Regions from separate parts of the Homo sapiens genome. Here all the other regions are linked to region 2. The links come from fine-mapping of genetic effects on gene expression. A gene starts in region 2. Each other region holds a variant in brackets. All regions are shown on one strand. Distances are from middle to middle. Region 1 overlaps DESI1 (desumoylating isopeptidase 1). Region 2 holds the start of CYP2D6 (cytochrome P450 family 2 subfamily D member 6 (gene/pseudogene)). Region 3 overlaps TCF20 (transcription factor 20). Region 4 holds the start of PHETA2 (PH domain containing endocytic trafficking adaptor 2).

The links.
Region 1: its variant is fine-mapped to the expression of CYP2D6 in whole blood (TOPMed, PIP 0.98).
Region 3: its variant is fine-mapped to the expression of CYP2D6 in whole blood (INTERVAL, PIP 0.96).
Region 4: its variant is fine-mapped to the expression of CYP2D6 in whole blood (TOPMed, PIP above 0.99).

What each region holds. Positions count from the first base shown.
Region 1 is chr22:41,610,692-41,618,793 of GRCh38, forward strand. All of the region lies in intron 1 of DESI1 (desumoylating isopeptidase 1), which reads right to left. Among named protein-coding and RNA genes, the nearest start is that of DESI1, 6.3 kb to the right of the region's middle. The variant C/T (reference allele first, on the strand shown) is at 3,368.
Region 2 is chr22:42,126,736-42,134,834 of GRCh38, forward strand. It overlaps CYP2D6 (cytochrome P450 family 2 subfamily D member 6 (gene/pseudogene)), which reads right to left and starts at 4,075. Exons shown (of 9, transcript NM_000106.6): 1 at 3,877-4,075; 2 at 3,003-3,174; 3 at 2,298-2,450; 4 at 2,049-2,209; 5 at 1,439-1,615; 6 at 1,107-1,248; 7 at 712-899; 8 at 116-257; 9 at 1-17. The coding sequence starts at 4,056. RefSeq lists promoters at 4,081-4,547, 4,134-5,666 and a cis regulatory region at 5,360-5,371.
Region 3 is chr22:42,217,848-42,225,949 of GRCh38, forward strand. All of the region lies in intron 1 of TCF20 (transcription factor 20), which reads right to left. Among named protein-coding and RNA genes, the nearest start is that of TCF20, 49 kb to the right of the region's middle. RefSeq lists an enhancer at 1-494. The variant C/T (reference allele first, on the strand shown) is at 3,499.
Region 4 is chr22:42,071,206-42,079,307 of GRCh38, forward strand. PHETA2 (PH domain containing endocytic trafficking adaptor 2) reads left to right here and starts at 3,043. Exons shown (of 3, transcript NM_001002034.3): 1 at 3,043-3,136; 2 at 4,366-4,447; 3 at 6,075-8,102. The coding sequence starts at 6,089. The coding sequence ends at 6,868. It also overlaps the pseudogene SNORD13P1. RefSeq lists enhancers at 2,363-3,095, 3,096-3,826, 6,437-6,999 and silencers at 3,181-3,560, 3,800-4,094, 7,920-8,102. The variant C/A (reference allele first, on the strand shown) is at 4,529.

The DNA.
Region 1 (8,102 bases), 520 kb before region 2:
ATGAAACCCCGTCTCTACTAAAAATACAAAAATTAGCTGGGCGTGGTGGCAGGCGCCTGTAATCCCAGCTACTTGGGAGGCTGAGGCAGAAGAATCACTTGAACCCAGGAGGCGGAGGTTGCGACGAGCTGAGATGGCGCCATTGTACTCCAGCCTGGGTGAAAAGAGCGAAACTCTGTCTCAAAAAAAAAAAAAAGACCACAAGTGGATAGAGGGATCCTAGCCAGGGGTTTCTGGGGATAGCACCCTAAAGAATGTGAGGCAGGTTCTGACCTTATCCAAACTGAGGTGAAATTTCACAGTGGTTGATGAGAACCAGACTGGATGCCAAAGGGGAGTGGTAATCCATTTAGGACGAGCATCTTCAAACCCTGGGTTCCACTGGGCTATAAGATACTAAATCTCCTCTTTCCTGTTTACTATATGTAAAATGGGGAGACTAACATTCCTTTTTTTGAGACAGAGTCTCACTCTATTGCCTAGGTTGGAGTGCAGTGGCACGATCTTGGCTCACTGCAACCTCCGCCTCCTGGGCTCAAGCAATTCTGGTGCCTCAGACTCCCAAGTACAGGCTGGGATTACAGGTGTGCGCCACCATGCCCAGCTAATTTCTGTATTTTTAGTAGAGATTGGGTTTCACCATGTTGCCCAGGCTGGTCTCGAACTCCTGACCTCAGGAGATCTGCCCTCCTCAGCCTCCCAAAGTACTGGGATTACAGGTGTGAGCCACTCTATGTGGCCTAACACTGCATTTTAAATAGAGCTGATGTGCCCTTCTGAACTGTCATTTATAAATCAGCTGTTTAAATGGCTGCAATTTGTTTATTTACGTGAAGACATTTAATAGTTCAGTGAAACTGGAGAAATTAAGGATACCTGCTTTCTCTTACCTGTTCCTTCTTTTTTTTTTTTTTTTTTTTTGAGACAGTCTCACTCTGTTGCCCAGGCTGGAGTACGATGGTGTGATCTTGGCTGACTGTAACCTCCGCCTCCCAGGTTCAAGTGATTCTCCTGCCTCAGCCTCCTAAGTAGCTGGGACTACAGGCGCTCACCACCACGCCTGGCTAATTTTTCTATTTTTAGTAGATATGGGGTTTCACCATGTTGGCCAGGCTGGTCTTAAACTCCTGACCTCGTGATCCGCCCGCCTCGGCCTCCCAAAGTGCTGGGATTACAGGCGTGAGCTACCGCGCCTGGCCCCTGTTCCTTTCAAATGAAGCTTTTCTCATTTACTTTGTGAGGAATGCTACGCTTACAAGGAGGAAGTACAATATAGTGAATAAGAACACAGGTTCTGGTGTAGACAGGTTGGGTGTGAATCCTACTGGCTTAAACGGTGAACTAATGGTTTATTGAGTGACTACTACCTTCCAGGCACTATCCTTGGCACTAAGGATACATCAGTAAACAAAAACCTCCTTCATGACACTTACTAGGTGGGGGGAGGGGACAGTCAATAATAATAATGATGATAATAAGTCATAACATGTTAGCAATAGTGAATGGTATAGAACGAACAAGAGTAGGTTAAGGGGGTCTGGGCGTAGTGGCTCACGCCTGTAATCCGAGCGCTTTGGGAGGCAGAGGCGGGCGGATCACCTGAGGTCAGGAGTTCGAGACCAGCCTGGCCAACATGGTGAAACCCCATCTCTACTAAAAGTACAAAAATTAGCCAGGCATGGTGGCACACACCTGTAATTCTAGCTACTCGGGAGGCTGAGACAGAAGAATCACTTGAACCCGGGAGGTGTTGCAGTGAGCTGCGATTGCACCACTGCACTCCAGCCTGGGCGACAAGAACAAAACTCTTGTCTCAAAAAAAGAAAAAAAAAAAAAAGAGTAGGTTAAGGGAGTTTCAGGGATGATCAGGGTGGGCCTCTTTGAGAATGTGATATTTGAGTGAAGATTTTTTTTTTTTTTTTGAGACAGGGTCTTGCTCTGCTACTCAGGGTGGAGTGCAGTAACGCGATCAAAGCTCACTGCAGCCTTGACCTCCCAGGCTCAAGTGATCCTCCCACTTCAGCTTCCCAGTTGCTGAGACTATATGTGTACCACCCAGGCCTACTTTTTTTTTTTTTTTTTTGAGACGGCGTCTCCCTATGTTGTCAAGCCTGGACTTGAACTACTGGGCTCAAGTGATCCTCCCACCTCCAGGCGTGAGCCACCAGGCCCAGCTTTGAGCCAAGATTTAAAGGAGGCAAGGGAAAGAGGGATGCAGGGGCAATGACATGCCAGGTTTATCTGAAGGCCTGTAAGGAGGCCAGTGAAGTTAGAATGGGTGAGGAGGGGAAGTAGAAGATGACCAGAGGTAATGGAGGACCAGATCACAGAGAACACTGCAGAGGCTGAGAACACTAAGCCTGAGCTGTCCAATATGGTGACCACTGACCACATGTGGCTATTTAAGTTAAATAAATGCACAAATTCAGTCCCTCAGTTCCACTAACCACATTTTAGGTATTCAATAGCCACATGTGACTAGTGTTTACTTACTGGACAGTGCAGATCTAGAACATTTCCATCACTGCAGAAAGTTCTATTGGACGCACTGTTTAAACTATAGTTTCCTATTCTGTAAAAAAAAGCATAATAACACTGCCTGCCTCATAACATTTCCAGGATTAAAAGAGACGATACATGACACATGCGTAGCACAGGGTCTGGGACATAATACATGCCCAATAAAGGCTAACTCATTTCTTCTAGGGTTTATAATTTGAAAGTTTTATAGTTGTTCTCATAGTACCCTGGTATTGAAACTATTCACGTGTCCTTCTCCCCAGTTAGACTACAGTTGCCTCAGTAACCAGGACAGTTTCTTATGTATCTTTATAACTCCAGCACCTAGCAAAGGACCTGGTCCTGAGATGTGACATGAACATCTGTTGAGATGAGCTGTTCTGTTTAGTTAGCTTTGTTGGTTGACACACAGTGCTATTGAGGACAAAGTTCCTAACCCCAATCTGGGCTGCCTGGCTTGTTATTGCAATGACTCTGCCACCCTGGCATACTGCACTCCCAGTCTACTGCTGTCTTCTCAGATGCGCATGCTCACTGACTCAGGAGTACAGCTGGCAGGTATGGATGTATCATCAGCTCAAACCCATTCCTACTAAACAGATTTTTGAAGAGGGGCCTCAGTTATTTCACACCTGAAAAACAACTCAAAAGTTGCAGGATACAAACCCTACTTTATTCTCCTTTATATCCTTTGTATCATCACTGAATTTGCCTGTAAGCTACACGCCACACTTCCTATTCAACTGCATCAAGGTACACTTAGGATCTCATCCATTCATAGAGTGGAGATAGGGACTATAGAAAAAAGATCCCCTTATTTATTCATTCTTTCTTTTTTTTTTTAAGA[C/T]GGAGTCTCGCTCTGTTGTCCAGGCTGGGGTGCAGCGGTGCAATCATGGCTCACTACAACCCCCGCCTCCCGGGTTCAAGCAATTCTCCTGCCTCAGCCTCCCGAGTAGCTGGGATTACAGGAGCTCGCCACCATGCCCGGCTAATTTTTTGTATTTTTAGTAGAGACGGGGTTTCTCCATGCTGGCCAGGCTGGTCTCAAACTCCTGACCTTGTGATCTACCCGCCTCGGTCTCCCAAAGTGCAGGGATTACAGGGGTTAACCACTGCACCCAGCCTGTTCATTCTTTCACTTATTCATTCATCCACCAAACACTTGGAGCCAACAATAACATTAAAAATGAATTGAGTGAATTTACATCCTTTCTTTTTTCCTTTTGAGACAGAGTCTCACTTTGTTTCCCAGGCTGGAGTGCAGTGGCGTGATCTCGGCTCACTGCAACCTCCGTCTCCGGGGTTCAAGTGATTCTTCTGCCTCAGCCTCCCAAGTAGCTGGGATTATAGGTGTGAGCTACTGTGCCCGGCCTACATCCTTTTTTTTTTTTGAGATGGAGTCTCACTCTATCACCCAGGCTGAAGTGCAGTGGCATGATCTCGGCTCACTGCAACCTCTGCCCTCCGAGTTCAAGCGATTCTCCTGCCTCAGCTTCCCGAGTAGCTGGGATTACAGGCATGCGCCACCGTGCCCAGTTAATTTTTGTATTTTTAGTAGAGATGGGGTTTCACTATCTTGGCCAGGCTGGTCTTAAACTCCTGACCTCAGGTGATCCACCCGCCTTGGCCTCCCAGAGTGCTGGGATTACAGGCATAAGCCACCTCACCCCACCTTGTTTTCTTCTTCTTTTTTTTTTTTTTAACAAAAAAGTTCCTTTTCACCTGTTTTCCACATGCATATCTGCAGAAGATTTCATTTCAAGGAAGAGTTTCACAGCTAAAGAGCATTTGAAAACCACTGGTCAGGCCACATGCAGTGGCTCACGCCTGTAATCCCAGCACTTTTGGAGGCTGAGGCGGGCGGATCACGAGGTCAGGAGATCAAGTCCATCCTGGCTAACATGGTGAAACCCCGTCTCTTCTAAAAAAAAATACAGGCCGGGCGCGGTGGCTCAAGCCTGTAATCCCAGCACTTCGGGAGGCCGAGGCGGGAGGATCACGAGGTCAGGAGATCGAGACCATCCCGGCTAACACGGTGAAACCCCGTCTCTACTAAAAATTAAAAAAAAAAAAAAAAAAAAAAAATTAGCCAGGCACGGTGGCGGGCGCCTGTAATCCCAGCTACTCAGCAGGCTGAGGCAGGAGAATGGCATGAACCTGGGAGGCACGCGCCACTGCACTCCAGCCTGGGCACACAACAAGACTCTGTCTCAAAAAAAAAAAGAAAATTTAAAAAAGCAGAATCACGCAGGGCCTTGTAAGCCATATTCCTTTCCATTTTGCCTTAAAGAAATTGAATGATTATTAAATTAATTCATTAGATGAGTATAAAACAGTTCACACAGTGAACAAAAATCAAAAACAAAGCACAATAGATGGCATTAAAACAGAAAAAACCTCTCTCAGATTTGAATAAATTTTACTTAATCTTCAAGCTTAAGTTCAAGTCTCAATCATTTCTATAATCAATACTTACTGAACACCTGCTCCAACAGGCCACTGGGGACATATAGGAAGGGGACAGAGTCCTTGCCCTCCAGGAGCTCCAGGCTCTTGCCAAAGCCTCTCTGACATGCTCAGCTCACCATGGCCTCTCTTATTTCAAAGCCTAACATAGTTCATGCACCACTCACTCACTTTGGCACCTAATCATAATCTGTTTTATATTGTTATCAAATGTTATATGTGTACATTCATTATTTAAAGGAAAATAATATTTTAAGAAAAACTCCTGGGCTGGGCATGGTGACTCATGCCTTACTTTGGGAGGGGGGTTTGTTCAGCATTTTGGGAAGCTAAGGTGGGTGGATCGCCTGAGATCAGGAGTTTGAGACCAGCCTGACCAACATGGTGGAACCCAGTCTCTATTAAAAATAGAAAAATTAGCTGGACATGGTGGCACATGTCTGTAATCCCAGCTCCTTGGGAGGCTGAGGCAGGAGAACTGCCTGAACCCAGGAGGCGGAGGTTGCAGTGAGCCGAGATCGTGTCATTACACTCCAGCCTGGGCAACAAGAGTGAAACTCTGCCTCAAAAAAAGAAAAATTCCTGGAGGACAGAGTTCACGTCATATCTTTTATTTCATTACTATTTGTACTACAAAATGAAGTAAAGAATTGAGTATAGTGTAAAATCTCTAATATTCATTAGAATTCATTCTGCCAAGCAATTTATATATTCTATGTCTCCAAATCTTTAAGTCTGAAAACAGTTTTGAAATGGGCTTGTAAAGAAAAATAAACGTGATGCATGTACACGAAACTTCTGATCAGAAAATAATAAACAAATATGAAGTACTTCTTACCACAATTAAAACACACACACACACACACACACACACACACACACACACACACTTCTGCATGTACTGTGGCACAAAAAGAGGTCAAGAAACTTAAAGAGCAGCCAAAATTATTAAGAGGAGGAACTGAAGGACACTTATAATAGCTAATTATTTTAGGCAATTGGTGACTATGAAAAAAGGTGCAATGAGGCTATCTGCTCAATTAGAATGCTGAAGATAATTTTGGGACCATTTTTCATAGTGAATGAAAAGCTATAGAACAGTAATGCCTTCACTTGAGGCAATTCCAGGAGGCTGAAAACAGGACAGGCTAAAACTACGGAATTTACATTGCTTCAGGAAAGGGGAATTACCTTGGGCTTTATCTAGTCTAATCCTGAACTGCGACAGAGCTAGATGAGGTCTCCCATTGGAGAACTGACATAACTGAAGCCTGAGAGGGTACTGCAGATGAGATCACATGGATTTAATTTGGGAAAATGGAGACTAAGAGGCATGATCATAAATCTAGATTGTAAGTGGCACATACACATTGAACCCAGCTTTTTTTCTCATCCAAACTTGAAACATTTGGCAAAGGATGCCTTTACAAACTTCAGGAAGGCATCTACTTTACTTCAATTTTAAAGGAACGTATTACACAGAGGTGGTATCTCAAAATGACAGAGAACGCGAGCTCTGGAAGTCAGACTGCCTGTGTTCATAACCCAGCTCTACCACCTAGTAGCTCTGGGACCTGGGGCAAATTCCTTAACACTCTACTTCTCAGGTTCTTCAATCAAGAAAATGGAGGCAATAACAGGACTTATCTCACAAAGTTGTGGTGAGGATTATAATGCACGCAAAGTACTCAGAAAAAAAGGGTCTGACACATGGTAAGCTCTCAATAAATAGTGGCTATTAATATACTTCTAGAATTCATCATAAAAATCAGGAAACAAATTGATTTTTTAAAGGTTCAAATGTATTTAGGAATGGGAAATCAATATATGGCTACTTATAGCACTGGGACATACCCAACTTCAAGATTTGTGTTGTCTGAATGGGATGAATCAGTAAGACCATGCCTATTTTCCTTAAGTGTTCAACTCTAGAAAGTAATGACTACTAGCTTTGCTAATTCTTTCTTCATTAATTTTGCAAAAGGTATAAAAGCAATATGGAAAAAAGAGGTAGAGAAGACAGAAGTAGATTAGCACACAAGGTGATTTCCTCAGATCAGAATCTGATGTGCCCAATGAATGGGTGATGTTCCCATGTTTGGCTGAGGCATTCCAGGACTTTACATCTATATAAAAGGGCGGGGAGTGGGAAGGGGGCAGGTCTATTACTCCATCTTCAGTTACAGCACTTTCCCCTTCACCCACTACACTCCACAAAAGCCTTCTTTCAGTTCCAGTATCAGGCCAGACTCTTTCCTGTCTCAGGGCTTTGGCAGGTTGATCTTTCTCCTACCTGGAACACTGTTACTCCCTTACTACCCTCCTGTGGCTACTTCTTCCTCATCCTAAATTCCCACTTTCAAAGTCACTACCCTTGATACCCTTATTTAAAATAGGTCTCTTCACTGGGTGCAGTGGCTCATGCCTGTAATCCTAGCACTTTGGGAGGCTGAGGCGGGCGGATCACTTGAGGTCAGGAGTTCAAGACCAGCCTGGCAAACATGGTGAAACCCTGTCTCTACTAAAAATATAAAAATCAGCCAGGTGTGGTGGCATGCGCCTGTAATCCCAGCTACTCTGGAGGCTGAGGCAGGAGAATCACTTGAACCTGGGAGGCAGAGGTTGCAGTGAGCTGAGATCACCCCACTGCACTCCAGCCTGGGCAACAGAGCAAGACTCGTCTAAAAAAAAAAAAAAGGTCTCTCTTGTTATTTTCTATCACAGCACCCAGTGTGCTTCCTGTGCAGAAGGCACTTATGCAATTTGTAACTAATTATTTATGTATTTATTTTTAATGTCTCCCCCATTAGATAGCTCCATGATGGCAAAGAACATCTTTGTTCATTATATCAACCTCATTTACCTTAACACGTTGACTAGCATAGAGCAGACGCTCAATAAACATCTGCTGAATGAATGAAATAATGACTCCTAAGGCTCCTTTCAGCTGCCCAATAATTATTAGGTAATAGGATAAAAAATACCCAGTGTAAAGGGGGAGGTTTTACGTGGGGTATAGGAAATATCTGATTCCTCACTATGATAAAAAAACAAACAACTAAATGGCTCCATTCCAAGAAGTTTAGTTAAAACTTGACTGATGTGGGCTGGGCATG
Region 2 (8,099 bases):
GAGGCATGCACGGCGGCCTGTGGGGAGGGGAGGGGCGTCAGTGAGCCTGGCTCCTGGGTGATACCCCTGCAAGACTCCACGGAAGGGGACAGGGAGCCGGGCTCCCCACAGGCACCTGCTGAGAAAGGCAGGAAGGCCTCCGGCTTCACAAAGTGGCCCTGGGCATCCAGGAAGTGTTCGGGGTGGAAGCGGAAGGGCTTCTCCCAGACGGCCTCATCCTTCAGCACCGATGACAGGTTGGTGATGAGTGTCGTTCCCTGGGCAGGAGATGCAGGGTGAGAGTGGGGACTGGACTCTAGGATGCTGGGACCCCTGCCACCAAACACACGGGGGACACACACTGCCTGGCACACAGCTGGACTCTGTCAACTAGTCCTGCGCCCGAGAAGCTCCACAGTACCCTCTCCGACCCCACAGCAGGGCGCAGTCACACCTCTCAGAGGCACCCACACTGCCCCCTCTCCCTGCAGGCGTTGGGTCCTCCAACATTCTGGCAGGTCCTGGTTTGTCTCCCCACTAGACGGGGGCTCTGGATGGACAGGCCAGCCCTGCCTATACTCTGGACCCCCCACCCAAGTGGGGACAGTCAGTGTGGTGGCATTGAGGACTAGGTGGCCAGGGTTCCTAGAGTGGGCCCACCTGGCAGTAGCCATGCTGGGGCTATCACCAGGTGCTGGTGCTGAGCTGGGGTGAGGAGGGCGCCAGGCCTACCTTAGGGATGCGGAAGCCCTGTACTTCGATGTCACGGGATGTCATATGGGTCACACCCAGGGGGACGATGTCCCCAAAGCGCTGCACCTCATGAATCACGGCAGTGGTGTAGGGCATGTGAGCCTGGTCACCCATCTCTGGTCGCCGCACCTGCCCTATCACGTCGTCGATCTCCTGTTGGACACGGCCTGGACAGACATGCGTCCCCACAATGGGTCAGCACCCAGGGGGTCCGGCCCTGACACTCCTTCTTGCCTCCTATGTTGGAGGAGGTCAGGCTTACAGGATCCTGGTCAAGCCTGTGCTTGGAGCCCCGGGTGTCCCAGCAAAGTTCATGGGCCCCCGCCTGTACCCTTCCTCCCTCGGCCCCTGCACTGTTTCCCAGATGGGCTCACGCTGCACATCCGGATGTAGGATCATGAGCAGGAGGCCCCAGGCCAGCGTGGTCGAGGTGGTCACCATCCCGGCAGAGAACAGGTCAGCCACCACTATGCGCAGGTTCTCATCATTGAAGCTGCTCTCAGGGTTCCCCTTGGCCTGAGCAGGGCCGAGAGCATACTCGGGACAGAACGGGGTAGCCCCCAAATGACCTCCAATTCTGCACCTGTCAGCCCAGATGCGGCTCGCCGGGTGATGCACTGGTCCAACCTTTTGCCCAGCCTCCCCTCATTCCTCCTGGGACGCTCAACCCACCACCCTTGCCCCCCACCGTGGCAGCCACTCTCACCTTCTCCATCTCTGCCAGGAAGGCCTCAGTCAGGTCTCGGGGGGGCTGGGCTGGGTCCCAGGTCATCCTGTGCTCAGTTAGCAGCTCATCCAGCTGGGTCAGGAAAGCCTTTTGGAAGCGTAGGACCTTGCCAGCCAGCGCTGGGATATGCAGGAGGACGGGGACAGCATTCAGCACCTACACCAGACAGAACGGGGTCTCAATCCCTCCTGTGCTCTGCGTTCACCTGGACAAGTCTCAGGCCCCAGCCATCTCCAGGTAGACCCAGGGCCTGCCTGTCCTTACCACTGACCTCACCAAGTCCCTCCCCAAGTGCCAGCCTCCACCCTCTCTCCTTGCCCAGAGGAGAAACCTAAAATCGAAATCTCTGACGTGGATAGGAGGTACAGAGTCCTTGGCCTCTCCTGGTGCCCCCTGACCCGGGCACACCTCTCCCACGACCATGTCTGAGATGTCCCCTCCTCCTCCAGGCCCTTCTTACAGTGGGGTCTCCTGGAATGTCCTTTCCCAAACCCATCTATGCAAATCCTGCTCTTCCGAGGCCCCAGTCCAGCCCCGGCACCTCTCGGGAGCTCGCCCTGCAGAGACTCCTCGGTCTCTCGCTCCGCACCTCGCGCAGAAAGCCCGACTCCTCCTTCAGTCCCTCCTGAGCTAGGTCCAGCAGCCTGAGGAAGCGAGGGTCGTCGTACTCGAAGCGGCGCCCGCAGGTGAGGGAGGCGATCACGTTGCTCACGGCTTTGTCCAAGAGACCGTTGGGGCGAAAGGGGCGTCCTGGGGGTGGGAGATGCGGGTAAGGGGTCGCCTTCCCCGTCCCCCGCCTTCCCAGTTCCCGCTTTGTGCCCTTCTGCCCATCACCCACCGGAGTGGTTGGCGAAGGCGGCACAAAGGCAGGCGGCCTCCTCGGTCACCCACTGCTCCAGCGACTTCTTGCCCAGGCCCAAGTTGCGCAAGGTGGACACGGAGAAGCGCCTCTGCTCGCGCCACGCGGGCCCATAGCGCGCCAGGAACACCCCTGGGGGTGGGACGGGCACGTGCGCGTGGCCATGAAGGCATTAGCCCCACCATCCACCACCCACTCCAACCCTATGCTCCCCCTGGTCTCCCGCAGTCCCTGGCTCTGTCCAGCTGGTCACAGGGCCCACTCTTTGTGCATCCACCTTGCTCCCTTGGCTGGGGCAGGGCTTTGCCCCACCTCGTCTCTGCCCACCCTGACCGCCTTTGCACTCAGGGAAGACCCCGCGGGCCCCGCGCCACCCACACTGAGCTTACAGCACAGGTGCGGTCCCCGCCCCCCACTTCGACACCGGATTCCAGCTGGGAAATGCGCCAGCCTCACCCATTGGGCTCCTGCCAGGTCTCGGCAGTGGCCCCGCCCACTCGTCACAAGCCCCGCCCTCGTCCCCATGCTCACACCTCCCTAGTGCAGGTGGTTTCTTGGCCCGCTGTCCCCACTCGCTGGCCTGTTTCATGTCCACGACCCCGCGCCCTCTCTGCCCAGCTCGGACTACGGTCATCACCCACCCGGGTCCCACGGAAATCTGTCTCTGTCCCCACCGCTGCTTGCCTTGGGAACGCGGCCCGAAACCCAGGATCTGGGTGATGGGCACAGGCGGGCGGTCGGCGGTGTCCTCGCCGTGGGTCACCAGCGCCTCGCGCACGGCCGCCAGCCCATTGAGCACGACCACCGGCGTCCAGGCCAGCTGCAGGCTGAACACGTCCCCGAAGCGGCGCCGCAACTGCAGAGGGAGGGTCAGGGCCTCTTGTCAAGCCAGGATCACCCCAGACTACAGGTCCTAGTCCTATTTGAACCTTGGACGACCCCCGGGGCTACCAGGAGTGAGCAGGTGGAAGGAGGAGACCCAGCCTCCTGATCGTGGGGCGGGGGTGGGGGTCACACCTTCTGTGATGGAGGAACTCAGTTTGGATGCGTCACCCAGGTATGACCTTGCAAGAGTCACCAAAATTGCCGAGAGGCCCCAGTTAGCATCCCATTCCCAGATGATGGTCCATGCCGGTGAGCAGTGAGGCCCGAGGACCCACAGTGCAAAAGGTTTGAACCGGGTCACTGCACCCCCTTCATCCTCGATTTCGTGATTTAAACGGCACTCAGGACTAACTCATCTTCCATTCCCAAGGCCTTTCCTTCTGGTGTCAGCAGAAGGGACTTTGTACTCCATAACATATGTTGCCCAATGGGCTTGCATGCCCACTGCCAAGTCCAGCTCCACCTCCAGGCCCTTGCCCTACTCTTCCTTGGCCTTTGGAAAATCCAGTCCTTCATGCCATGTATAAATGCCCTTCTCCAGGACGTCCCCCAAACCTGCTTCCCCTTCTCAGCCTGGCTTCTGGTCCAGCCTGTGGTTTCACCCACCATCCATGTTTGCTTCTGGTAGGGGAGCCTCAGCACCTCTGCCGCCCTCCAGGACCTCCTCCCTCACCTGGTCGAAGCAGTATGGTGTGTTCTGGAAGTCCACATGCAGCAGGTTGCCCAGCCCGGGCAGTGGCAGGGGGCCTGGTGGGTAGCGTGCAGCCCAGCGTTGGCGCCGGTGCATCAGGTCCACCAGGAGCAGGAAGATGGCCACTATCACGGCCAGGGGCACCAGTGCTTCTAGCCCCATACCTGCCTCACTACCAAATGGGCTCCTCTGGACACACCTGGCACCCCCACCCCACCAGGCACAGAGGACCAGGCAGGACACTCTCAGCACACCGAGCGCGTGACCCTTCCCTTATAAAGGGAGCTGATGATGGCCTTTGCCCTCTGCTGTGAGTGAACCTGCTGTGTTGACTGTGCTGCCAGTGGCAGAGTCAGGCCAGGGCGGGTATGGGCTGCTCCAGAGGTTCTTGCCCCTGCTTCCTGCTCCAGGCCCTTACCCAGGGTAGGCCGGTGGAGGGGCCTGGTCGGAGAAGTCACCCCCTCTCCCCACTCCAAGCTCCTGAAGCCTGCAAAGCCTTCTGGGATAACCAGGGTTTCAGTGGACCCGGCCATCCACCTCCCAGCTAGGCTCATACACCCTAATGTAGTCACAACCCCTCCTCCAGAACATGGCCTTGCCCTTTCCCTACCCCCACCTGCCCACTCCAGAGTGACCTTCAGCACCCTTATCTGTCACTGGCACTTACCTGGGGCCTTAGAGCTCCTGATGATGAGTGGCATCATGGGCCTGGTCCCTTCACTTCACCTTGCACTCTTGACATGCACAGACGCTATGCACACACCTGATGGTGCACAGATCTCTTGTCCACTCCCAGACACTTGTCCACTTGTTCACACTTGCAGGGACACGATTACACACGCAGAAAATCACCCACACAAAGACAATATTCACACATACACAGACTCACACTGACACTTAGGGCACACATTCTCTCTCACACACACCAGTCACACACACATACAGACCCGGCACCAAGTACCCCACTTCCCAGCCATGCCGGAGGTTTCCTGGATGGGACCACTCCTGTCCAGAGGCTGCTCCCAGCCCAGCCCACATTCCTGGGCTCTGGCCGGGCTATGGCTTCTTGTTTGCAACAGGGCTGTTCCCAGAGCTCCCAGTTGGTAGCCGGAAGGCCCTTGCCCCAGCCTGTGACAACATCCTCCCGGGCTGCCTGAGGGTCGTCCTCCTCCACTGCTTTCTGGCCTCCATGTTTCTGATTAGAAATCTGGTGGGAACGTTATGGAGGATCCTTTGTTCAGGATATGTTGCTTTATTTTTTTTTTCTTTAGACAGGGTCTCACTCTGTTGCCCAGGCCGGAGTGCAGTGGCAGGATCATGGCTCACTGCAGTCTCGACATCAAGTGGACCCCCTGCCTCCCAAGTAGCTGGGACTACAGGCACCACCCAGCCTAATTCTTTTTTTTTTTTTTTTTTTTTTGGAGACGGAGATTTCCTCTTGTTGCCCAGGCTGGTGGCTCCCCTCCATTGTGCAATGATGCAATCTCGGCTCACTACAACCTTCACCTCTAGGCTTCAAGCAATTCTCCTGCCTCAGCCTCCTAAGTAGCTGGGATTACAGGTGTGTGCCACCACGTCTAGCTTTTTGTATTTTCAGTAGAGATAGGGTTTCACCATGTTGGCCAGGCTAGTCTTGAACTCCTGACTTCAGGTGATCCACCCACCTCAGGCTCCCAAAGTGCTGGGATTATAGGCATGAGCCACCGCACCCAATCCCAGCTAATTTTGTATTTTTTGTAGAGACCGGGTTCTTCCAAGTTGTCCAGGCTGGTCTTGAATTCCTGGGGTGAAGCGATCCTCCCACCTGGGCCTCCCAAAGTGCTGGGATTACAGGCCTGAGCCACTGTGACTACCTGATACGTCTCTTCTCTCTTGCTGCTTTCAAAATCCTGTCTTTTGTGGGAGGGCAGCTGCCGAGCTCTGGACTTCTACGGGATCATCCACTGAGGACAGGAGGACCGGGCCCTCTACAGGTGGATTGTATGGCAGCTGCCATGCTTGGAGCCAGTGCTCACCGAGCACGTGGCGGCTGTGGAGCTGGACGCGGGGTTGATAAGTCCGCTGGGGGTGACGGGCTCATCCATGAGTGGTACTTGATGTGGCTGCAGAAGGCGGATGTGGTGGTGGCAGAAGTGACACAACTGTCCCTGGGTATAGGCTATGATCTGTGCCAGGCCACAGCCCTCAATAAGTGAATCCTGTGCCTGCTCCAGCCGCAGTCTGGTGGAGTGCTGTCGGCCATGATCTGGGAAGAGGCAGATGGCTCTGGGTTCCAGGTGTGGGACTACGGAGAGGGACAGGTGGAGGCCCTGCTGCATGGATAGGTTGAGGCTGATCCTCCCGAGCAGGTTGCCTCCCCTAACCCAACCATTGGACCTAATCCCATTTTATTAAATTCTTCTCATCCCAGACACTGCTCTAGTACCAGTCCTGGCTCTTTGCCCCAGGAGCAAATTAAAAGGTACATTTAAAATTCTAAAAAAAGAAAAATCTGTCTTTTGACAGTGATTATGATGATGCGTATGGCTGAAGATCTCTTTGAGTTTACCCTACTTGGAGTTTGATGAGCTTTTTGGATGTACAGATTAATATTTTTCATCAGATTTGGGAGGTTTTTCAGCCATTAATTCTTCAACTATTCCTTTACTCCTTTCTCCCTGTCTTCTTTCCTGGGACTCCCATTGCGTGTATGTCGGAAAGCTTGACGGCGTCTCCAGGTCTCTGGATCTCTGTGCATTGCTCTTCATGCTTGTTCCTGTTCCTCAGAGGGTACTACCTCAGGTGGCCTCTCTCCATAGTCACAGGCTCTTTCTTCCAATTGTTCCAATCTGCTCTTGGGCCCCTGGGATGAATTTTCATTTATTTTACCCTACAACTCCAGAATTTTTATTTGGTTCCTTTTTAAACTTTTTTTTTGTTTTTTGTTTTGTTTTGTTTTTTGGAGTATCGCTCTGTCACCCAGGCTGTAGTGCAGTGGTGCAATCTCGGCTCACTGCAATCTCTGCCTCTCGGGTTCAAGCGATTCTCCTGCCTCAGCCTCCCGAGTAGCTGGGATTACAGGCACGTGCCACCACGCCCGGCTAATTTTTGTATTTTAAGTAGAGACGGGGTTTCACCATGTTGGCCAGGCTGGTCTCAATCTCTTGACCTCATGATATGCCCGCCTCAGCCTCCCAAAGTGCTGGGATTATAGGCATGAGCCACCATGCCCAGCCCCTTTTTATAAGGTTCATCCCATTATTGATATTCTCTAATTGGTGAGACATTGTTCCCACACTTTCGTTAGTTCTTTTGACATGGTTCTTTTCTTTTTCTTGGGAGAGGGTCTCTCTGTCGCCCAAGCTGGAGTGCAGTGATGCAGTCATGGCTCACTGCAGCCTCAACTTCCTGGGCTGAAGTGATCCTCCTACCTCAGCATCCTGAGAGGCTGGGACCATAGGCAGCCAGCTAATTTTTTAAATTTTTTTGTAGAGATGGGGGTCTCACCACATTTCCCAAGCTGCTCTCAAACTCCTGGGCTCAAGCAATCCACGGGCCTCAGCTTCCCAGAGTGCTAGGATTATAGGTGTGAGCCACTGCACCAGGCCTACACGTGGTTTCTCCCTTTGAAGTACTAGCCAGGCCTGACCATGCTTAGCTTCCGAGATCAGCAGGTTCCAGCCGGTGCAGCCTCAGATGCAGCATGTTTTAGGTCTTTGAACATATTTAAATGAGCTGACTGAACGTCTTTGTCTAGCAATTGCAGCATCGGGCTGGTCCCATTGGTGACTTTTCCCGTGTCTGGGTCGTCCTTTCGGTTTCCTTTCCATGTCTCATAATTTGTTAAAACCTGGACATTTCACGGGCGATAATGTGGCAACTCCGGAAGTCAGATTCTCTTCCCTGCCAAGGATGTGTTGTTGTTGTTGCCTGTTGGAGCTGTTTCTTTGCTGGGTGACTTTTCTGAACTAATTCTGACTAAGCATTAATGTCTCCATTCCCTGCGAGCTGTGGCCACTGAAGCCGCTCTTCAGTTACGGCAGTGGTCAGCTAATGACTGGTCAGAGAGTTCCTTAGGTGCCTGGAAGCGAAGTCTTTGCCGAGTGGGTCTCTCTCTGTGTGCCGGGCGTGGCTTCAGTGCTCGGCTAGGCAGTGCTCAACTTTCCCTTAGCCGTCACCTGCTGTCTGCACAGCACCTCAGGTCAGTCACGTGTGAGGGCTCAGGG
Region 3 (8,102 bases), 91 kb after region 2:
GTAACCCCAAATTCTAAAAGCTTGACCCATATCTTGAAATATCGTAAGTCTAAAACAGCTAGACAAGGGTCTACTTCCTTAAGCTTGATTATATAGTCATGTGACCCAAAACAATCGCTAAACATTCATGTGCAAATAATGTCAGAATCTAAAGGAAACTTCTCATCCTATTCAAAATGCCTCTGTTGCTTTGTTCCAGTGAATCTGCAGGGCAGTAGGTAATAGCTATTCAAATGGTGATGATGCTGCTTGACACTGTTCCAGCACTTCACATACACTAACTCATTTAATCCTCACAACACTAGCACGCTCCTTTTACAGATGAGGAAACAGAAGCAGAGTTCACAAAGCTCCTAGGCAGCAGGGCTGGGGGCAGGACATGTTTTTAACATTACATTGCCCAGAGGGTCTTCCACATGGTCAGTAAAAAATACCAGTTGTCCTGTCAGTTTGGCCTTGAAAGTGGGTAGCCACCCACAATAAATCTGTCCCTTCACTGCCACCCTCTTATAAGGACCTCCATACTGTTCCAGCTGGCTCTTCACCCGCTCCCCATCATTCTTAGAACTATCAAGAGCAATTCTGTCTACATGAGTATTAATTTTTTCCCCTTGTGATGTGCTCCTGCTCTACTCCTCAGTGCCAGTGGCCTTCTCTAGATAAAACAAGGCTGAATGGGGGCTAAATTGAACAAAAACATTAAAGCTAGCAGTTTAAACTAATGAAAAGCCTTCTCAAGAGATATTCTCTATAAAAAGCTATGTTACATGTTGTTTAATTAATCCTTCTGGAAATAAAATCAGGCTTCTGAAGATCTGAGTGTATAAACAATGTTGCCACTTGCTCCATATTCTTCCTAAATAGGAGCCACCAAGAGCTAAAGGCCACTTTAAACATCAGGGTATCAGGCCTGAGGCTGCCCTATCTCCAGACAGGGAAAACAGATACAGGAAGGACTCCTTCTTAGGTCTGTTCTCAGCCTTCCCCTGCAGATTCCCTGTCCTGTATGATACCCCTTTCCCTATTGTTATGGTTCTACTTTATGAAAAAGAAAAAAAAAAAATCCAAGGCCAAATACCTCCTGCAGGGTTCCAGTCATGCTAAATATTCTTAGTATACATGAAGCACCTGAGTAGGAGAAGGTGGTTGCCCAGGTTTATCTTTTTTAGGAATGCCAAGTAAACCAATTAAGAAAACCAACTAGCATATACCAACGACAGAAAATGTAAACCTGGAGCTATAAAATAAGTAATAGGCTGGGTGTGGTGGCTCACACCTGTAATCCCAGTGTTTTGGGAGGCTGAGGTGTGAGGATCGCTTGAGGTCAGGAGTTCAAGACCAGCCTGGGTTAAAAAAAATTTTAAATGCACAGTGTCATGAGGTGTGCCTACAGTCCCAGCTGCTCAAGAGGCTGAGGTAGGACGATTGCTTGAACTCAGGAGTTCGAGGCTGCAACGAGCTATGAATGTGCCAATGTGCTCCACCCTGGGTGACAGTAACCCTGTCTCAAAAAAAAAAAAAAAAAAAAAAAAAAGCTAATAGAGATAATTCCAATTTTATCCCATCATCTTAAAAAAAGCATCAGTGTAGTCAGTTTTAAAGCACTGTGATTAGTAATAATAAGTGCCTGAATTCCTTTGTTTAAATGAATACAAATAGTAAGGAAAATCTGATACCTCAAAGGAATAAGTCACCTAAGGAACTTGCATACACACTCTAAAAAAGAGGCTGGGCACAGTGGCTCACCCCTGTAATCCCTGAACTTTGGGAGGTCAAGGCGGGCAGATCACTTGGGCTCAGGAGTTCGAGACCAGCCTGGGCAACATGGCGAAACCCTATCTTTATAAAAAATACAAAAATTAGCCAGGCATGGTGATGCGTGCCTGTAGTCCCAGCACCTCGGGGGGCTGAGGCAGGAGGATCGCCTGAGCCTCGGAGGCAGAGGTTGCAGTGAGCAGAGATCGCGCCACTGCCCTCCAGCCTGGGCAACAAAGCGAGATTCCGTCTCAATAAATAAATAAAAAAGAGGCCTACCGATGTACTTCCCATCCATAATGACTCTCCCTTTCCTGTTTTTCTCCTATATTCCTAACTTTCTGAACAGTTTCAGAAGGGCTGTGGAGGTGTATTAGTGAGGTCCAGAACTCTGTGCCTAAACATTCCAGAGTCCATGTGCCGACCTCACAAACTCACTCATAACCAGCTGCAGACTTGTTCTCCCCATCCTATTAGAGGGCTGATGACCTTGCCCTCTTATAGAAAACCAACATTGGCTTTCTCTGTCCTTCTTCCTCCATATGTCCAACAACATCCCACTTCCCAATCCATTCTCTTTTTTGGAAAGAGAGTCTCACTCTGTTGCCCAGGCTGGAGTGCAGTGGCATGACCACAGGCTCACTGCGGCCTCAACTCCCAGCTCAGGCAATCCTCCTGCCTCAGCCTCCCAAGTAGCTGGGACCACAGGCATGGGACCCCTGGCTAATTTTTAAAAAATAATTGGGACTATGGCTAATTTTTATAATTTCTTAAAAATAGAGACAGAGTCTCACTGTGCTGTCCAGGCTGGTCTCAAACTCCTGGGCTCAAGCCATCCTGCTGTTTCAACCTCCCAAAGTGCTAGAATTCAGCCATTGTGCCTGGCCCCAGCTAATTTTTTCATCCTCTGTCATGATTTTCTGCTTATTCTCCTTCTTTGCCTTTAAATCCTCAAGACATTGACAATGATGCATCTAGTTATAGCCTGTGTAAGGGATATTCCCTGTTTGCCCCCACAGCCTCTCCTCACCCATCTCCACCCTACTCTATGCCCTAGAACGGACAATGGAAGGACAACTGACAGGCCCCACCACCCTTGCCTTCTGACCCAGTTTGGCTGGTAAGAGGCAGGAGAGGAGGAAAGTGAGAGGAACTTACTCTCCTGGCTCCCACCCCGAGGTTACTGAGGCTGGCTGAGACCCTCCACCAATGGCTGCAGCTCCATCGGGCAACCTCAACATATAGCCACTTTCTCCAAACTCCAGGAACCACTTCATCCTCTGCCCTTCAGGTCTAGAAGGCAGTAGGTAACAACTCCCTGCTACTGCTAGCACAGAAGACTTCACTTTCCTGTTGGCTTCCCCAAACCCTGCTCACCCTTTCCAGTCCCTTTATTAATCTTCTGCATTGTTGTCAACTCAGCATCGTGACCACCCTCCTTCCAAGCTCTCCTCTGCAGATCAGAAGCTGAGAACTTCCGTTCCAGAACCCTTTAGCAGCATGGTTCTGGGTTAGAGTTTGCAATGAGAAGTGCAAGAGAGATTTAGAAGGCAAAATAAACGTAGAGGTTGATGATATTCCCTGGAGGTAGATGCAGCACACGTGGATTCATAGCGGCTTCCCCATGAGCTCACGAGAACCATTCACTATGACACTTCAGTATGAAATCATCAGGAACCTTCCCAATTCCAGTTCTTCCAGGGTTGGGTAAAGCCTTAATTCCTGTATCAAAACCATTCATAC[C/T]GGAATAGACAACTTCTCTTTTCCTGAATGAACCCTGAATGATACAATTAAACACTCCTTAAATTACCCAGTTTGAATGTGCCATCTGTTTTCTACTGGGACCCTGACTGATAAGAGTTCTTCTCATTCCTAGGATTTCAGAGTAGACTATTGCCACTTGGGGAATGAGAGACTTCTATTTCATGCACTATGACATAGAACAGGGACTAAAAATCCTCCCTCAACAAAACACTTAGAAATGTCAGACAAAATGTATAGCCAAGTTGCAAGAAAGTAAGAAATGCCCAAAGTCCAAAATTGGATGAGATACTATGAAGAGAGTTGCAGGCAGGTGCTGGGCTCTGAATGCCAAGGATGTGGGGTCTATAGGGCTTATTAACCATATGGCAAAGGGTTTTTTTTTTTTTTTTTGAGACGGAGTCTCGTTCTGTTGCCCAGGCTGGAGTGCAGTGGCGATATCTCGGCTCACTGCAAGCTCCGCCTCCCGGGTTCACGTCATTCTCCTGCCTCAGCCTCCCAAGTAGCTGGGACTACAGGCGCCCACCACCGTGCCTGGCTGATTTTTTGTATTTTTAGTAGAGACAGGGTTTCACCGTGTTAGCCAGGATGGTCTCGATCTCCTGACCTCATGATCCGCCCGCCTCAGCCTCCCAAAGTGCTGGGATTACAGGCATGAGCCACCGCGCCCGGCCCCATATGGCAAAGGTTTTAATGACCATGCAGAGACAGAGCAAGGCCTCTGGCCCTCTAGACAGATCAGTACTTAAGGACTCTGGACAGTGTCACTTGTGACTGTAATCATTTCTAAAAGACAACAAATGCATTTATTATTAGGCAGTAACTAACTCATTTTCAATGACAAAGATAAGGTTGTTCTTCCTCAACTGACCCAACTGCCTATTCTCAAAGAAAACCATGATCATCCCAAGCAAGAAGCTTTAGAATAACCCCAAACTGACCTTTCACTTTGACTCTGTATTTACCATGCTACCTCATCATGACACTACTCTCCTTCCTGTATTTGTCCTTTCCCATTCCATTCTCGTCACTGTCATTTTCATCTTTCTTGGGCTAGAATAACACCTGAAAAGTTCTCTTTCCCAGTACTTTCTTTTGCTTAACTGCCATTTTGACACCATCACACCCCCCCATAGGCCCTGAAGCCCTGTGACATCTTCCCAACACAATTTCTGCTTCTCCCCACCCTCTCAAACAAGCCTGCTCAGCCCCCTTTGTGCCATCGGCCCACTCTCACCTTGGTCTCAACTTGGAGCCTTTTAAGCATCCCCAGGCCCATAAATTCCTTCTTGCCACATGAGATCATATGGTTCTTAAGAGCTCTTAGAATGTGTCCTGCTGTATCTTAAGAGCTCCTAAAATGTGTTATCCATGTGATTTTCTCTACAAATCTTCCTCTAAGCAGAGAATGTGTTGGCTTTACCTTGCTTAGTAAAAACAAACCAATTAAAGTATTTACCTTTAACCAGTATCTAAGGTATGTACCACTGATATAATAAAAATTGCTGGCCGGCCACAGTGGCTCACACCTGTAATCCCAGCACTTTGGGAGGCCGAGGCAGGCAGACTGTTTGAGCTCAGGAGACCAGCATGGGCAACATAACAAGACCCCGTCTCCACAAAAAATACAAAAGAATTAGCTGGGTGTGCTGGCTTGTGCCTGTAGTCCCAGCCACTCCAGAGGCTGAGGCAGGAGGATCACTTGAGCCTGGGAGGCAGAGGTTGCAGTGAGCCGAGGCTGCACGCTACTACACTCCAGCCTGGGTGCTACAGTAAGACCTGTCCCAGTAAATAAATAAATAATTGCCATTTATTTAGCAATCTATATATGTTAGTCACTGTGTGGTTTTACCTGTAACTCAATTAATGAATGAGGGGGAAAAATTAATGTAATTTTTTCCAAAAGTCCAAATTTTCCAAAAGTCACTCCTCTAGGACAAGTTGGAGCTGACATTCTGTAACTCCAATTCTTCTGATTCTAGAGCCCATAACCCTTTCTTTCACTGTACCACAAAATTAGGCAAGGAAGATCCAAATGCATATTTTTGAAAATCCTGACACACACTTGGGTCAGATCTCTAATAACTGTAGCTATCAATTATTGCCATGCCTCACACATGTGACACACTATCAGGTGCTTTACACAAATGTTAATGCATTTCATCCTTACCATGATCTAAGAAATGTTAGTAATCCTTTTTGTAAATGGAGACTCAGAAGTTAAACAAGCAAAATATTCATGGTAAACAATGAGATAAGATATATAATATGCCCACTGCAAAACCCAGTCTGTATTTCCCAATCTGTGACATTGGGAAGCATTTTAGAAAGGAATCTTGAGGAATCTTGCTAGAATTTAGTTGACTGCTTGTACCTAGATATATCTGTAACACCTGTATCGTTTGTTTTGTGTATGTGCAAATGTGGGATCTTCCTAAGTGTATCAAGCATAAAGATCTGCTCAGTGACTTAATATTTCATACTCTATGTCCTGTTTGCACATGGGCAGAGCCTATATTTTTCTCAGTGGCTAAAAGTTATCTTAGTGTAATAGGACTTCAGAATAAAATGAAGTGTAATGAAGGTGCTGGCTTCCTCCCTGACTTGGGAGATCAGAAGAGTCTGAAAGCAACTCAGAATTCGCAAGTCAGTTCCTTGTCTAGAAGGAAAGAAACCCACAAGAATGCTGCATATCTAAAAAGATTGCTTTCTGGGTGTCAAAACTCATATTAGCCATGTAAGCCATAAAAAATATCCACCTTGAATCATGACCAAATACATGCAGGCAAAAACTAGGGGGATAAATTTGTAACTATTACATTTCCTGGCCAGGCGCAGTGGCTCACGCCTGTAATACCAGCACTTTGGGAGGCCGAGGTGGGCGGATAACGAGGTCAGGAGATTGAGACCATCCTGGCTAACACAGTGAAACCCCGTCTCTACTAAAAATACAAAAAAATTAGTCGGGCGTGGTGGTAGGCACCTGTAGTCCCAGCTACTCAGGAGGCTGAGGCAGGAGAATGGCGTGAACCTGGGAGGCAGAGATTGCAGTGAGATCGCACCACTGCACTCCAGCCTGGGCAACAAGCGAGACTCTGTCTCAAAAAAAAAATTTCCTAAAAAATTTAAAAGATGATATCCCATCTGGTTAGGTTAGGCTAAAGCTGGTACAAAAAAAAAAAAAAAAAAAAAAAAAAAGCACCATAAATGATTATGACTCTTGGAAAAGAAAACTGGTAATAAAACAGTCAACCAAACAAAAAAACAAAATACCAACATATTCACTCCAGTAATATGTATTAGAAGAAAAAACTGGCAACAACCTATTTGAAAATTGATTAAACAAATTATGGTATATCCACTCAAAGAAATAGTACATAATCATTTTAAACAATTGCAAAGACTCTAGCACCATAGAAAATTACATAGTATCAGATGAAAAGAGCAGCTCACGTAAACTTATACCTGTGCTATGATTATAACTATCTGAAAATGAGGCATTCATTTAGTCCCAGGCCAAAGGGAATAATGGAGAAAAAAGGAAAACTTCTGGACTATCCAAGATGGCAGTGTTGTGGAAGTATTTTTTCCCCTTTTCATTTCTATTTACATTAATTTTTGTGTAGGAAATAATCACTTTTTTTTTTTTTTTTTGAGACAGAGTCTTACACTGCACTGCTGGAGTGCAGTGGTGCAATCTTGGCTCACTGTAGCCTCTGCCTCCCAGGTTCAAGCAATTCTCCTGCCTCAGCCTCCCAAGTAGCTGAGATTACAGGTGCCTGCCACCACGTCCGGCTAATTTTTGTATTTTTAGTAGAGACAGCATTTCGCCATGTTGGCCAGGCTGGTCTTGAACTCCTGACCTCAAGTGATCCACCTGTCTTGGCTTCCCAAAGTGCTGCGATTACAGGGTGAGCCACAGTGCTCAGCCAAAATGTCATTAACCTCATTTAAAAATTACAACCCTTAGGCCGGGCGCGGTGGCTCACACCTGTAATCCCAGCACTTTGGGAGGCCGAGGCGGGTGGATCATGAGGTCAGGAGATCGAGACCATCCTGGCTAACAAGGTGAAACCCCGTCTCTACTAAAAATACAAAAAATTAGCCGGGCGCGGTGGCGGGCGCCTGTAGTCCCAGCTACTCGGGAGGCTGAGGCAGGAGAATGGCGTGAACCCGGGAGGCGGAGCTTGCAGTGAGCCGAGATTGCGCCACTGCAGTCCGCAGTCCGGCCTGGGCGACAGAGCGAGACTCCGTCTCAAAAAAAAAAAAAAAAAAAAAATTACAACCCTTGAACTATCTCAACAGTATCAGAGCTTTATCTGTTCCTACTGACAGCAAAGTGCTGCTCTGCCCAAGGGAAAGAAATAGAGGCACAGGGGACCCCACAAGTCAGAAGCAGGAGGGAAGGGAGGAGCCTGCCAGACAGGACCTCTACTTCAGGAAACCTGGTGCCAATGCCACACACAGGGTTGTTGGACACCACAGTGCCCAGGCAAGTGTGCACACAGGGTCACTAGCTCAAAATTATTTTTTGAGAATCAGGCCTAAAGTCAGCTGAATTCCAACCCACAGTCGGCAGGCCTATT
Region 4 (8,102 bases), 56 kb before region 2:
ATCGTCTCTACAAGGAGGGTGCGTGGGAGGCACCAAAGCAGGCGGTCACAGCTCCCGCAAAGGCAGCCGGCTCTCCTTCCCCGCCTGACGCTCAGGGACTACTCGCACAGACTGGGCTACTTCCTTCTTCATTCATTCATCAAGTATTTATTGAGAAACTGCTAAGTGCCAAATGCTTTGTTCTGGGCATTGTAGGGGCAGAAAGGTGTGATATTTTCCCTTACTCATCCCAAAGGTCACAGCGGACACTCCTACAAATAAAATATAGGTTAGCAAGAGAAAAGCATAATAGATTGATTTACTCAATGTTTTATGTGACTTGAGAGCCTTCAGGAATGAAGACACAAATACTCAGGGAAATCTTTATTTTTATGTCTCGGTTTGATGAAGAATGGACAGCCCTGGCCGGGTCTGGTGGCTCATGCCTGTAATCCCAGCACTTTGGAAGGCTGAGGCAGGGGGATCGCTTGAGGCCAGACATTTAAGGACAGTCTGGGCAACATAGTGAGACCCTGTCTCTACAAAAAATTAAAAAGCCAGGCAGGTGCCTGTGGTCCCAGCTACTCGGGAGGCTGAGGTGGGAGGATTGCTTGAGTCCAGGAGGTCGAGGTTGCAGTGAGCTGTGATTGTGTCACTGTACTCCAGCCCGGGCAACAGAAAAAAAAAAAAAGGAATAAGGAATGGACAACTGTGTATAAACGCGATTAGACAAAAGGGAATGATTTAATGTTAATAGCTGAGTGTGGAAACCCAGCAATGTCTGTTCAGATTCGGATTCTTCTTGTTCTCTCTGTGTGGCATTCCCTCCTGCTGGGAGGAGGGCAGGACCCCTTCTGGAATGAGAGTCTTATGACCTAGTATCAGGCAAGGTAGATCAGAGAATTCCTTTATGGCCAGGCCCGACACAGAAAGGTGGGGGATGTTTCCAGTAATATTTGTAGTTACTTTTTTTTCTTTTTTTTTTTCTTTTGAGACAGAGTCTCCCTCTGTCACCAGGCTGGAGTGCAGTGGCGCGATCTCTGCTCACTGCAACCTCCGCCGCCCAGGTTCAAGCGATTCTCCTGCCTCAGCCTCCCAAGTAGTTGGGACTACAGGCGCACGCCACCATGCCCAGCTAATTTTTGTATTTTTAGTAGAGATGGGGTTTCACCATGTTGGCCAGGATGGTCTTGATCTCTTGACCTCGTGATCCGCCCACCTCAGCCTCCCAAAGTGCTGGGATTACAGGCATGAGCCACTGTGCCCAGCCAATATTTGTAGTTGCTATAACTCACCTTAGGGAGGAGGATTTTTAGTTTCTATGGCCTGCCTTGCAGGAGAAAAACAGGAGAAAGAAGGGGGGCAGGAGAAGGTCAGAGAGATACTTTGCTTCTGAGGCTCTTCCAGTGTCCTTTGGTTCAAAGTACTCAGCATGCCCAAGTGCCATATTTTTAGGCATCGCTTTCTGAGCCCCAACAGCACCTTCACTCAGATGGCCACTGGGTGTCTCAAACATAACCCAGACCAAGCACCGGCCACTTTCCACATCTCAGATAATGACAACTCTCCTAGGTGCTCAAGCCAAAACTGTGCAGTCCTGCCTGCTCTTTCCCTCACTCCCCACATCCAACTCCTCAGCAAATCCTGTGTTCTCTACCTTCAACAGCCATTCTAATTCTGGCTGCCTCTCCCTCCCCGCTCTTGCCGCGTTTGTGACATCTCGCCTGGATAGTGGCAGCAGGCTCCTCACTGGTCTCCAGCCTCCACTGACATTGATTCTCACCACAGAAGCCAGAGTATGCCTTGAAATCGCTCAGGTCCCTCCTCACAGCCCTGTCTAGAGTAACAGCCCTCCCAGATTTACAGAGCCCCATCCCACCCCTTCTACCCCCACCTCCTACTGTCTGCCCCTCCCCAGGCCTCCCAGCCTCACTGGCCTTCTTGCAGGTCCTCAAGCACAACAGGCCTGAGGGCCACTGCGCTGACTGTTCCCTCTGCCTGGAATTGGCATGGCTGGCTCCCTCATTTCCTTCAAGTATTTGTCCAATGTTACTTTCTCAGTGAGGCCTACCCTGACCACTCTATTTGCAATTGCAACCTCCCTACTCCCACAATTTCCCATCTCCCTTACCCTCCTCTGTTTTTCCATGCCACTTATTATCTTCTAACACATTTATTATGGTGTACAGTATTAACTGAATAAAATTTAGTAGGGGAGACAGGCAATAAACAAGAAAATAAAAGCATGAGCATAGGAAAGTTTACTCTAGCAGTGAGTGCTCTGATGGAAATAACACCCCAGGGATGGGACAGAGACTGCAGGGCAGGTTGCTTTACAATGGTCCCAGAGGAGACCACTGAGCAGAGACTCAAATCTGTGTCCAGAGGCGTCCTGAGGAGTGGAGCTGCGGTTGGGGGTGGGAAGGAAGGCCATTCTAGGCTGCAGGAACTGCAAGGGCAAAGGCTCTGAGGCGGGAGCCAGGTTCATGGGCAGATGTTTGAGGACACCTCCGGCTTCCAGGGCCTTCCAGAAGTTCCAGTCTCTTGGGTTTGGTTGTGCATTCCTGCGACCTTCACCGCAGGCCTCCTCCTCCACCCACTAGTGCAGAGCCTGGGGGCTGCCGGTGGGTTTCAGGCCAGGGAAGCAGAAATGGGTAATTTCCAGAGGCAGAAATCAGCCGACCCCGGTGGCCCGGTGGGTGGCCAACAAAGCTTGGCTGGCCCTCGCGGGCTGTGTAGGAGCCCACCCTAGGGAGGTACCCAGAGACATCCCTGGTTTGGCTCTGCCGGGAAAGTGGGCCGAGCAGGGAGAGGGGGACCAGAGAGGAAGAGATGGACAGAGTTTTCCGGACGGTGGGCTGGGTCCGAGGCCCGCGGACCGTCCGAGGGGGGCCTCTGGGTTCGAGGCCGCCCGCACCGACCAGTGCTGTGGCTCGGGCAGTTCACCGCCCTCTCGGGCCTCAGTTTCCCGCCCTGGCAGACCTCGAGGCGGCCTCGGAGATCCCGGGCCTGGCGAATACTGGGCGGGGAGGGGCGTTAACTCCAGCCTCCCGGGCGGGGTCTCCCGGCTCCCGCGGCCACGTTGCAGCCCAGGCGGAGGCGCGGGATCTCGAGCTGGGATCGCCCTCTTGGGCTTCGGTGCGATCGGCGGCGGGAGGTGAGAGTGGGCCCGGCGGGCTCCGGGAGGAGGTGGCCCCAGGGAAGGTGTGGCCGCGGGGAAGTGGCGGCGAACAGCCCCGACGCGAGGACGGGGAAACCAAGGCGGCAGCCAGGGAGACCCTGACCGAGGTGACCTCTGTTTAGGGCGACAACCGGGTTGGGGCTCCCCGCAGTGGCCACTGGCCCGGCGGTCCCGCACCCCCAGCCCGCCTCTCCTCCAACAAAAGAATCCAGGAAGACGGTGGGGCGGGCGGGAGGCCCGGTGTGCGGTGGCCTGGCCCCCCTACTGGTGGAGAGGAGGGAGCGCCCTTCCCCAGACGCGGGGGAGGGGAGGGGTCATGGCCCCACGGGCTGCCCACCCCCTCCCTGTGCCCCAGTGCTGGGCCCAGGACCCCCAGTGAGGCCACTCCTCTGGCAAACATCTGTGATCTCTTCCCCCTTCCTGGGCCCCCCCTACTGGAATGGCGTCTCTCCCCATCCAGGGGCCTGGCTTGTTTTTCTCCATAACCCTTAGCATTACCGGTCCTTATGTTATCTCTTATTTCACTAATTATTCTTTCATTAATTTATTAGTATTTATTTTGTTTGCCTACAGTGTGTTTCCCCCTGTGGGAATGTAGGCTCCAGGAGGGCGGGAGACTTCGATTTGTCCACTGATGTATCCCCATTAATTCAACAGATCCCTCCTGAGGGCCTCTCTGAGCCCTGCACGGTGCTGGGTATTGGGGTTCTCCTGGGAACTTAGCTGAGCCCCACCCTAGACATTCTGGGGCTGGGAACAGTGCTGTAAACACATATGACATCGTCGTGGGATGAAGGAAACAAACCAGAAATGGGGGGGTCTACTGGTCAGGTGACCTTAGGTCAGGCCACCTTGGTGGTCAGGGCCACCTTAGATGATATGGTGATCATGGAAGGCCTCCCAGATTAGGTGACTTCAGTTAAAGCCAGGAAGTGCTAGAAGGGAAAAGCTAGGAACCATGAGGGCATGTGTAGCTCTGACCTGGACTCAGGCAGGGAGCTGGGGTCTGAAGAGTAAAGGTCAAGACAAGGGGACCCATCCCCTTAAGCTGCTCAGGGGTTCCTGGCTGGGTGGATGGGTGGGGGGATTCTCAGGGGTCAGGGAAGGCTTCCCGGTGGAGGCTGTGGTTTCATTAGGCCTCGAAGGTGGAGTAGGAGTTCTCATTCTTTGGGATAAGCTGACTGGGCTTGAGAATTGTTTTGCAGGTTCCCTGGGAACCAGGTGGTCGAAGGGCTGAGCTGTGTGGCCAGACAAGAGGTCCCTGCCCTCCCCCAGTGAGCCCTGCTGGTAAGTGGGTACAGTGTGAGGGATTTGGGAGACGAAGCTCTGCGTCTCATTGGCCATGTAACCTTGGGCAAGTTCCCCTCA[C/A]TGCGCTGGGCCTTGGTTTTCCATGAGTAAGGACAGCTGGACTAAGTGCCGTTCATGATGCTGGGGGCACCCACATTCAATGGCTGTGGTTAGCTCTTCTCAGCTGTACCCTGGGTTTGTGCCACACTCTTGTGTACAGAGTAGCTCCCCATCTGGCCCTGAAGGCTGCAGATTGAGACAGAAAAATAATGTTTTATCTGAGGAATTGGAGCCCCTTTAAATAATCAGGCCCAGACATACTGAAACGCAACAGCTGTCAAGTCTTACTCCTCCCTTGAGCTAAAGAATTATCTCTTTTTCTTTTTTTTTCTTTTCTTTTCTTCATGTCAGATCGGTAATGTGCCTACATGGTAACAAGGTTCGAGGGTGGCACAGCTCACACATGCATGTGAACACCCAATCATCACGCTCATGAACTACAAAAGGATCAAGAATTACCTCTTGAAGCCACTTGCTATGTGGCTCTAGAGTGACACCAAGTAGCCATAAAATGCTGTACACTGGACACCCTATAGTTCATACCCTATAGTTCAACAATGTATAGCCAATCACTAATCAATGTTATTTCTTTTTTTTTTTTTGAGATGGAGTTTCTCTCTTGTCACCCAGGTGGAGTGCAATGGCACAATCTTGGCTCACTGCAACCTCTGCCTCCTGGGATCAAGCAATTCTCCTGCCTCAGCCTCCCGAGTAGCTGGGATTACAGGCACCCACCACCGTGCCTGGCTAATTTTTGTATTTAGAGACGGGGTTTCACCATGTTGGCCAGGCTGGTCTCCAACTCCTGAGCTCAGGTGATCCACCCACCTCGGCCTCCCAAAGTGCTGGGATTACAGATGTGAGCCACCGCACCCCACCAATCAATGTTATTTCTATAAACCAAGGAGAATTCCTGCCAAACAACTTTGTCATCCTTGCCCCCTTCTGCCTATAAAAACCTGTAGGAAAGGCCCAACGCAGCACACCCCACGGCAACTTAGAAGTTTGTTCTGGGCAGTTATCCTTACTCTCGCTCAAGTAAACTCTTTAAAGTTATATTTGTGCCTCAGCTTCTGCCTGTAGGTCAATAAGATTCAACAGCTATATGCAAATAAGAGGCCAGTAGAGGCCCAGGAGGGTCATGGAAACCCTGGAAGCTTGGCCTCAGAGTTGGAGTTGAGAGGACCCCAGATGAGGGGATAGTTTAAGCACAGTGGTTTCGATGGGTCTGGGGTCCATTTCAGCTCAGCTGGGGCCTGTTTCTTTGGATTTTAGAAAGCCGTGCCCAGGTCCTGCCATGCCTCCTGTCTGATGCAATCTCGTTATTCTTTTCTCGAAGTCCGCCAGTGTCCAGTTTTTTTTGCATGATCCTCACGACATCCCTTTGAGAGAAAAGGAAGGAAAGACGAGCCCACTTCTCAGGAGACTTTAGGGACCTTAGGGACACAGCAAGCGAGTAGGAGTCCCAGGGCTGGGGTCCAGGTTGCCTCTGGAGCCGGTGCTGTTCCCCAGGAGGGCACGGAACCACCTCCCTCTCTGATCTGCTGCCATCTCTCTTGCCTCACAGTTCCCGTGGGAGCCATGAAGCTGAACGAGAGGAGTGTAGCCCACTATGCACTCAGCGACTCCCCAGCGGACCACATGGGCTTCCTGCGCACCTGGGGGGGCCCAGGGACCCCACCGACCCCCAGTGGCACTGGCCGAAGATGCTGGTTTGTCCTCAAGGGCAACCTGCTATTCTCCTTTGAGAGTCGCGAGGGCCGGGCCCCACTGAGCCTGGTGGTGCTGGAAGGCTGCACAGTGGAACTGGCCGAGGCTCCCGTGCCCGAGGAGTTTGCCTTTGCCATCTGCTTTGATGCCCCTGGAGTGCGCCCACACCTGCTGGCCGCAGAAGGGCCGGCGGCCCAGGAGGCCTGGGTGAAGGTGCTGTCCCGGGCAAGCTTTGGCTACATGCGCCTGGTGGTACGCGAGTTGGAGAGCCAGTTGCAGGACGCACGCCAGAGCCTGGCTTTGCAACGCCGCTCATCCTGGAAGTCTGTTGCCAGCCGCTGTAAGCCCCAGGCTCCTAACCACCGAGCTGCGGGCCTGGAGAATGGCCACTGCCTCTCCAAGGACAGCAGCCCTGTGGGCTTGGTTGAAGAAGCGGGCAGCAGGTCTGCAGGGTGGGGGTTGGCTGAGTGGGAGCTGCAGGGCCCTGCCAGCCTCCTCCTAGGCAAGGGGCAGAGCCCTGTGTCCCCTGAGACCTCCTGCTTCTCTACCCTGCATGACTGGTATGGCCAGGAGATCGTGGAGCTGCGGCAGTGTTGGCAGAAGAGGGCCCAGGGGAGCCACTCAAAATGTGAGGAACAGGATAGGCCCTAAGTCTGGGCCCTTTGAGTCAGGAAACCAGGGCCAGTTCTTTTTCAGGAGTTAAATGTTTACCCATTTCCAAGGTTGCGTTTTGGGAGGGGACATGGGTTCTCTCCTTCCTGCTATTTAGGCATTCTCCAGGTTCGAGATCCACCCGTGTGTCTGGAAGGGACTGCGGGACCATTCCTTCCATCCTCTTTATTTCCTGAGGTCCAGAGAAGGAAGGAGACTTAGCAGCCACAGAGCAAGACCCCAATCTCCTGACTGCACTGGCCTGACTGCCCCCTCCCAGGGGATGTTAATGAAATGAAGGAAGTGGGGAATGTCACCCGAGACTGTCACAGGCTTGCCATACCTTTGGCCTACACACCGGGCTCTAGAGCCATAATTTCCAACCTGGGGAGTCTCCTGTGCACTTAAATCCGAGGTAGGCTGCAGTATCGGCTTGAAGCTCTGACACTGTCAGAGAAAGTGGATTTATTGTGTCATAGGAGTTTCTGGGACCCAGCTCTTCCTGAGAGGGGTGGGAAGATTGGGGATGGGATCCTCACTCAGCAGTCTGGGTAGGGCCCTTTGAGGCAGAGGGTCTTCGGCCAGTGAAGAGAGATTTATTCTGCTCAGAGTGCTGGGGTCCCATCCTTTCTCCCTGGCTGCCCTGTTAACAGATGGTGCTGGACCTTGCCCCGGAAGGGGCTTGTAGCTTTTTTACGTCAACGAAATGCCCTCCTGTACTCTGTCTTCAGCAGCCAACTCCTGGAGCTGCCAAGTGAGGGGTTAAAGAAGAGGTGGGGAGGCAGTGTGGCTCCCTGGGAAAAGTCTGTTGCTTTGGTTCTCAGTCCTGGGTATTCTAGGAGCTTGGACACGGGATTGCGTTTCCTGTGCTAAAATTCTCTCTCCTGGCTGGGCTCCGGTAAACTGAAGCTGCTCGAGAAATCACCTGGGAACTCTCATAGCCGTTTGTCACCCAGGGTGTACTTGCCAGGACCTCTCCTTGCTACTCTTCCCAAAGTCGGGAGGCAAAGCGGCTGGGTCACCAGAGCCTGACCATACTGACGCTCCAGGGGGAAGACGCAGAGGCCGGGAAGAGACACCCCCTCCCAAACACATAAAACTTGCCCCTTCCTAGCCTCGGCTCCCCTCACTGGGGCCTTGGGCAGGACCGACCCGCATCCAACTAGGCCTAAGGGGTAGGCTCTGAGCCTCTTACCCCTAAGAGGCGGAGATGCGCCCAAGGCGGGCGCCCGGC